2 linked regions of the Homo sapiens genome follow. The protein of the gene in region 1 purifies or fractionates together with the protein of each later gene. This does not show direct contact. Each region holds a gene or a part of one and is shown in the gene's direction. Other genes may lie near its edges.

Region 1 (4,515 bases):
GGTGAAGGCTGCAGTGAGCTCAGACTGTGCCACGGCACTCCAGCCAGGGCAGCAAAACGAGATTCCATCTCCAAAAAAAAAAAAAAAAGTTATTTAAAACTTATGAACTGTTTATTTCTGGAGTTTTCCATTTAATATTTTTTGGATGGCAGTTGACAGCGGGTAAGTGAAACCCAGATACAGTGGGGGGAGGGGGTACTACAGAAAGTAAAAAAGTAGCCTATTTTCAGACAATGTCTCCCAAGTAAGCAACAAGATGCTCATCATTCTTTGCAACACACATAAAGGGTGCCATGCAGATGATTTATACGAATTTTGTTTTTTTTTTTGAGATGGAGTCTCGCCCTGTCACCCAGGCTGGAGTGCAGTGGCGTGATCTCAGCTCACTGCAACTTCCACCTCCCCGGTTGAAGCCATTCTCCTGCCTCAGCCTCCCGACTAGCTGGGATTACAGGCGCGTGCCACCATGCCCGGCTAATTTTTGTGTTTTTAGTAGAGACAGGGTTTCACCATCTTGGCCAGGGTGGTCTCGATCTCCTGACCTCGTGATCCACCCATCTTGGCCTCCCAAAGTGCTGGGATTACAGGCGTCAAACACCGCGCCAGGCCTATATGAATTTTTAACTGTGCTTACTTGATCTGGAGAAAATTACAGCTGACCTCTGTTTACAAAATATCAACTTGTAAAAAAGGATATTTTATTTACAAAATATCAAGTCGTATTTTCTTTCTGTCGCTGATGTTTATGAAATATCAACTCCAACAGGAGTTGGTGACGATGAAAGTGAAACTTTCTGCTGACTTTGTATTTCTCCAAAGGTCATTTAGACTTCTAAGGGGGGCTGAGGAGAGCCGTGAGCCTCACTTTTCCTGAAGTGAGCCAGCAGAAACGGCACCGAAATTCTGCCCAGGATGCCACCGGTATTCAAAGAAGTGGCCAGCTCCTTGCTGCCCACCCCGGTTCCAGAAGCAAAGAGACACTTCCTATGTTTTTGCATCAGTAGAAGCTGCTAGCCCTGAGGCTCAACCGACCGCATGACATCGGCCGGACACGGAAATGCCGGCGGAGGCGGGAAAGAGTCTGCGGGCGCAGCTGCAGGCACTGCTGCCCGCCAGCACTCGGATTCGCCACAGCCTGTGTCTGCGACAGGCGTGCCCGTGGGCACTGGGCAAGCGGGCAGTGTCCCAGCGAGCTTCAGCCGCGCCTCTGGGATACAGCTGCGAAAAGCGGGGAGAGAATGGTTTCTCGTGCCCGACGGTGGCCCCGCCTCAGGCTCCAGCCGCGCGGCCCGGAAGCGCCGCGGCCACCGCCTACGGAAAATGGCTGCCTCCCTGCGGCCGCCGCCGCTCCAGCGGCTCCAGGGTCGAAGCCATAGGGGAAGCCGCTTCTCGGTTACCTCGGCCAGCTTGGCTTCCGTGGAGGCCGCTCCTCGCTTTCTGAGGCTCAAACGCAAGCCACCGCCCGAAAGGCCGCCGATCTGAGGAGCGCAACCGCCAGCCCACCGCTGGCCTACCGCAGCCCTGTCCAGGTACAGAGCCAGAGCGCCGGCCGGAAGTGGAAGTGACGCTTTCCGAGGGTGGCGCAGGCCCGCCCTCTGGCTAAGGCGCCTGAGCCCGGCCTACTTCCTCGCCAGAGAAACTGCTGTCTTCCCCGGCGGTAGGGAAGGGTTAATGCCACCGAGTATCCAGACCCGCTGAAGCCTAGAGGGCCTTGTACCGGCTCACCGCGTGGCTGTCGCTGTCTCGTGTCCCCAGTGGGGGAGGCGTCGCACTGCCGCGTCTGTTCTGCGTGGCTGTCGGGCGGCGTTTGGTCCCGGGAGCCTCGCCGGGTAAGGGTCGCCTCCCAGCTGCGCGCGCCGCGTTCTCGGGCTTCCCGCGGCCCGGCCGGCCGTGCTCGAGCTGTTGCTGGGCTCGTCGCCGCCTCCTCGAGGAAGAGGCATTTTGTCCGGGTCGGGCCACTCGCTAGGTCAGAAACAGCGGCCCCCCGAGGGTTTTGTACCGTTTTCTAGGTCTCGTGACGCATTCCCCACAACTATTTTTTCTTGAGGTAGGTTTGAACCTGTGAAATAGGTTCTTTTTCTATCTCTCCTTGACAGAGAAACGGAGACCTAAGAAGTGACTTGCTCAGGGTCACATAGCTCAGCAGTGGCGGCCGCTAATCGGAAATAGCTCTCCTGTTGTGGTATCCTCTGCGTTTTCCACTCCAGTATTCTTCCCTGGAAAATGGGAACCTTGTTTTCATCTTATATCTCATGCAGCGCCTAACATAGTCACCTGGTAAGATAGGCATTCCACACATATTTACTGAATCATAGTTATAAGAATCTGAGTGTTTTGGGTGTTCAGTGATCTCTGAATTAATCCGTTTTTGTAATGTCAGTCTGTACCAGTTGAGGGATTATTTAATAAGTCCAGTATGAGTGGTTTCGGAATTACCAGTTTTTGTAACGTCAGCTTATACCAGTCAAGGGACTATTTATTAAGTCAGCTATGTGTAGCCAATATTGCAGAGTTGAGTAAGAAGTCTTTGTCCTTAAGCAATCTCTTGAAAGGACTGAGCAATTTCGTGAATATCAGTAACACAAGGGTAAGAATAGGACATAAACTGAATGCTGTGAGAACTCCAAGAAAATCCAAGTTGATTTGGGGTTGGGGGAAATTATAAAAGACCTTGAGGGATTTTGTCCACAGCAGGGAATGGAGACACTTTCCAGGCAGAGGGAAGGGTAGGAGTAAAGGCTTTAAAAGCTGGAAACATTAGACTGTGAGATCTTAGGTACGTTTTTACTGAGTTGGGCTGCATTTAGAGGAAGAGTTTTAAAAGTTAGAAAACGAGTTTATGTGGCACTTATACTGGAGTCCTTTGAATGGGAATGAAAAGAGTGCATTTAAGAAAGTAAATCCTGGCCGGGCGCGGTGGCTTACGCCTGTAATCCCAGCACTTTGGGAGGCCGAGGCGGGCGGATCATGAGGTCAGGAGATCGAGACCATCCTGGCTAACATGGTGAAACCCCGTCTCTACTAAAAAATACAAAAAAAAATTAGCCGGGCGTGGTGGTGGGCGCCTGTAGTCCCAGCTACTCGGGAGGCTGAGGCAGGAGAATGGCGTGAACCCGGGAGGCGGAGCTTGCAGTGAGCCGAGTTCACGCCACTGCATTCCAGCCTGGGCGACAGAGCGAGACTCCGTCGCAAAAAACAAAACAAAACAATACAAAAAAGTAAATCCTGGAGCACCATTTGAGCGTTTTGGACTGAGCTGCTTTCTATGGCAGTTCATCTAAGGTAAGTTTAAGGTGAGAATGAAGATGAGAGGCCATTACCAGGCCATTATGCTATTTTTGCTTTTGGATGGGATGGTATGTAACTCCTCTTAGGCATAGATCTTGATCCTTTTTAAGTGAGAGAGAAAGATAAACAGATTTAATAATGAGCATCTGCCTAAGTCACTTGAATTTGTGTCTAAGTAGGTTCATTTCCTTAAAATCTCAGCCAGGTTGGGACTTCATTTCTTCAGCAGTAAATATTCTCAGTCTATCAGAACCAGTGGACAGTAGCGCCATCAGCATTAAGATTCTCATCACCTGGCCCAATGCTGAATATATAATTAGAATTTATTAAGTTGAATAAGTGAAGTTCTGCTAGCAGTGCTAAGCAGTGCCCTTGGATATCATTGACAGGCCTGATTCATAACACAGGAAGTTGGTTAAAGGGAAAAGGGATTCATGGGAAAAAGAGGCAGCAAGGCACAAATTGTGAATAGTGAATAAGAGGCACTGGTGATTTTCATTGTGTGAGGTTTGCTGCCATAGTGGCTTATCCTTTGAAGCCCACAAACATTCCTTGAGCCTTTCCTTTTGGTTTCACCTCCCCTTGCTTGGGCACTGTTTTAGAAATGATGACTGTGGCTGGGCGCAGTGGCTTACACCTGTAATCCCAGCACTTTGGGAGGCCTAGGTGGGTGGATCACTTGAGGTCAGGAGTTCGAGACCAGCCTGGCCAACATGGCAAAACCTTGTCTGTACTAAAAATATAAAAATTAGCGGGGCATGGTGGTGCGTGCCTGTAATCCCAGCTACTTAGGAGGCTGAGGCACGAGAATGGCCTGAACCCTGGAGGCAGAGGTTGCAGTGAGCCGAGATTGTGTCACTGCACTCCAGCCTGGGCGACAGAACCAGACCCCATCTCAAAAAAAAAAAAAAAAAAAAAAGACGACGGCACAGCTGAGAAGCATTGAAAGCAAATACATTAATTCTGAGACACCTACACAACTGTCATAGTGGCCTGAATATTTTTGCTAGGTGACTAGCTTGAGTTAATGGTGCTGCTATTGGCTAGCAAATACTTTTTTATTTTTCTATTTATAAGTGAAAGAGATAAACCAAGATTTATGTCTGAGTTATCACTTACTAACTGCCTTAATTATAGTTGCCTCATTTAGAAAGTTGCTTGATCGTAGCCTGCCATTGGCTCCACCCCCTAATTACTACCATATTCTCTTGTAATCTTCTCCATGCT
Region 2 (3,810 bases), on another chromosome or scaffold:
CAGCCTTGGAGGGGAGAGGAAGGATTTGGAAGAAGTCTGAGCATGGATTAGATGAGAAGGGCTGTGAGGGAGTTTCTGAAATCGCTGGTCCTAGCAATTGAATGCAGAGCCCATGCCACCACAAAACAAAACAACACAAAAACAAAAACAAGGAGGAGCTGGTTTTTAGTCTGGGGAAGGAGGGAAGATGATCCCAACATTTTGGAAACGCTGAACTTGAGATGTTAGAGGGTGATCTGTTGGGAGATGCTGTCCAGCTGCAGGCTGTTTTGCCTGTCTGTTTTGGCACGCTTGCCCTGAGGCAGAGAAAAGAGGAGGAGATCTGGACCAGTTTAGCAGACAGGAATGTGCAGGGATTCAGAGCACGTTTTGGAGAGAGATGGAGCCAAGCTTAGATTCCTGGCCCTGCCATTCAACGTCTGTGAGGATTGGGCTGTTGATGTGACATCACTGAACCTGTTTCTCCAATTGTTAAGATGGAGACAGCCTCAGAGACTCGTAGGAGGATCAATTAAGTTTACTAATTGGGTACCAATGTTATTAATATCATTGTTTTCCTGAAGGCTATATTTCTTTATTTTTCAGACAGAGTCTAGCTCTGTCACCCAGGCTGGAGGGCTGTGGTGTGGTGTGATCTCGGTTCACTGCAACCTCCACCTCCAAGGTTCAGGTGATTTTCCTGCCTCAGCCTTCCAGGTAGCTGGGATTATAGGTTCCTGCCACCACACTCAACTAATTTTTGTATTTTTAGTAGAGACGGGGTTTCACTATGTTGGCCAGTCTGGTCTTGAACTCCTCACTTCGTCATCCACCCGCCTCAGCCTCCCAAAGTGCTGGGCTTACAAGTGTGAGCCACCGTGCCTGGTCTATTTTATTTTCATTTTTTTGTAAACTTTTATTTGCATGTTTTGTTCTTCATTTCTTAGCAGTAGCCTGTATGCTATCAGCAGGGAGAGAGTCCAGGCTAGCATGTTACATATTAGAACAATGTTGCACCCAAGAGTGGCTGCAGGAAATGTCCTCCCATCAGACTCATATTATGTCCAGAAGAGTTACTTTTATATATGGGGTCCTCTCAGCTGTTTGACAGAAGAAATAATAAAGAGCTTCAGATTTCGTTTTAGAATGACACGTCAGCTAATACACGTTTAGGCTTATCTTCCAATTTGCAGTTTTTGGCATTAAGCTTTTAGAAACTTTACCAGATTTATTTTATGTTTCTTGAATTCTCTTCTCCACATGACCAAGGAGTGAAATTGCAAGTTTGTTTGCATAAAAGAAGCGCAGACAGCCACGTTCCATCCTGTTTACCAGTTTAGGCCCCGGTGAATGCAAGCAGAGGCAGGTATTTGTGACCTTTGAAAGCAGCTCTCACTAGCACCTCTTCAATGTATTTCTGAACCTTTGGATGTTCCTGGCTGGGCAAATGGTTGATTACCATGGAATCAAGCAGTAACAAGCCAGTCTTACCTTTGACTTTAGTGATAAGGATTAAGTAATAATCTCCCTCCCTTTTGGTTGAGCTGCGTGTTCCGAGCCCGAGTCTGGTTCTTCTGTGTGCTGTGTGAAGTGTTGCTGCTGCAATCGTGTTACTCAGTCACAGTGACTTCGGGAGGAGATGGTCCTAAGTCAGCAGATCCAGGCAGCCCTGGAGGGCTCTAGTTCTGTCAGCCCCTGGCTCCAATCCTTGTGTCCTTCAGTGTTTTAGAGATGCTGTGGAAGGCAGCCTCCCCCAATCATCACAAATCTGCATGTTCAGTGTCACAAAGTCCATGGCTGTGAAATGGTTCATTCTGTTTTAGAAACCATTTGTAAACTTGGAAAACAATGCTAAAATTTAATTAAAATATCCAAGGATTTCAAAATACTGGCCACATTAATCTATGCTTCTAAGGTGTTCTCCATCATATGAATTAAAATGACTTAGAGCTCTTTAAATTTTTCAGTGGGATTTACAGTAAAAGTAAAGAAGAGATATTATAGGCAGTTTCTCCAGTTGAGTTCTGCTCCCCAAACTCCAGGAAGAGCTCCTTCGTATCTCTGGGGCTGGAAAGGGAAAGGACACAGAGACTTCAACCCTGCCTGGTGCTTTTCCACTTTACTTGGGCTGCAGGGCCAACTAATTTGAATAAAATTGAAGTGAAATGTCAAGAACATCTCAAATAAATAATATTCCCAGTGAGATTTTATCAAATGTAAACTTGGAGCACTTTTTTCTTCTTTTGCCAGTTCCTTATTGGCTGTCCTCCAAGAAGTTGCCTGCAAAACTGGTTTAGAGATACCTCCCCTTCCCCCAATCCCCAGATCAACCCACACTTACTTAGTGGATGCCTGCGGGGCTCTATTGTCATGTGGCTGCCTTGGTGGGGAGTACTATGAACCAGGTGCACCGCGCGCATTATCCATGATCCCCACAAACATGGCCAGAAACAGCCACTCAGGGGCTTTGCACAACTTGATGTCACATCATCAGTAAGAAGCAAAGGCAGAATTTGAACTGAGGTCTTTCTGGTGCTGAGTTCTTGCTTCTCCGCATGGTTGTGTTATGCCAAGGGAGCTAGAGGTGGAAACGGTAATATTTCTTGCACACTTGCCTATGCACCAGGCACTTTTCTGACCACTTTACCTGTATCAACTCAGTTATGCCCCCTCTCTGTAGACTATGAAGCAGACACACTACATTCCCATATTGCAGATGAACCAGAGGTCACAGATGCTAAGTGACTTTCCCCGGCTGCTGAGCATGGAGCAGAGCTGGGATTGGAACCCTGGTGGTGTAGAGTGCCAGCCTGGGGCCTTGACCATTACACTCTAGTTTCCTGAGGAACCGGGTGAAAGGCCATTGCATTTGTCTAACGCTAAGTTTGCACAGCAAACACACTTTTACCAAGAAGCTATGCTAATCTGGAGGGTTTTTTTCAGGAGTTGGGAGTGTTGGATGGTAGAGGTTATGCAGGCAGGCATTACCAATACCACTGGGTCTAATGGAGTTTATGATCTTAGGAATTCTTGGATCCTTTTATTACTCTCTAAATTTATTCATCCATTTACATTGAGAACTTACTATGTGCAGGCATTGTTCTAGGTGCTAAGGATACATGGTGAACAAAATATTCTTTTTTCCAGGATCAAGACTGATAGGTCTTTCTTCCTCCAGAGGCACATTCAGATGTGCCATGTTTATGTAAGAGTTTCGGTCCCCTTGGAGTATACACTCGGCATTTACCTGGTGCCCTGTACTTTTGCTTCAGACCTCACTAGAAAAACCTCTGGCTGCCTGTAAGGTTCTAATTTCGAATGTCCCAGGTAGAGGGCTGTGCCATCCTCAGGATGGCCCAACAGGTGAGGTGAGCTCAGAGGCCCTCCACTCTTGGCATTCTTGTACAAAGCAGGTTGGGCCCAGGCCTCTTAAGATCGAGGTTTTAGGTAGCATTTCCAGGGGTGGCAGCCCTGTCTGTGCCCTCCCTCCCAGTGGCTCTTAGAAGAGAGTGGGCCATTCCTAAGGCCATGAAGACAATGCCCCATAAAGGTCATGCTTCCATGCCTGAGGGCTCTCCCGGTCCTCTCTTGGTGGGGGTTGAGAGACTAGACCCTCCCCCCTACCTCCCCAGGAGTGGGGGTTATGTGATGTCACCAATGCTGGTGTCTCACTCTTGCACACATTTTCCAGGCTCCTGGCACCATGGAAGATCTCCTGGAGGCTGGTGCCTTCAGCTTCAGGCTCTGATCCTTCCTTGTTGCTTTAATTATCCGTCTTACCACCCAAATCAATTAACAGGCTTCCTAGTTAACAGGCTTCCATTTTCTAGG

What was found.
Region 2: the proteins of TIGD7 (region 1) and FBP1 purify together in Homo sapiens (affinity purification with mass spectrometry; one large-scale study listed by BioGRID and IntAct). This does not show direct contact.

Annotation. Positions count from the first base shown.
Region 1 is NC_000016.10:3,302,526-3,307,040, reverse strand, and holds the start of TIGD7 (tigger transposable element-derived protein 7), read left to right. Parts: upstream 1-1,610; 5' UTR 1,611-1,829; intron 1,830-4,515.
Region 2 is NC_000009.12:94,629,445-94,633,254, reverse strand, and holds part of FBP1 (fructose-1,6-bisphosphatase 1), read left to right. Parts: intron 1-3,810. UniProt on the Homo sapiens protein: Catalyzes the hydrolysis of fructose 1,6-bisphosphate to fructose 6-phosphate in the presence of divalent cations, acting as a rate-limiting enzyme in gluconeogenesis. Plays a role in regulating glucose sensing and insulin secretion of pancreatic beta-cells.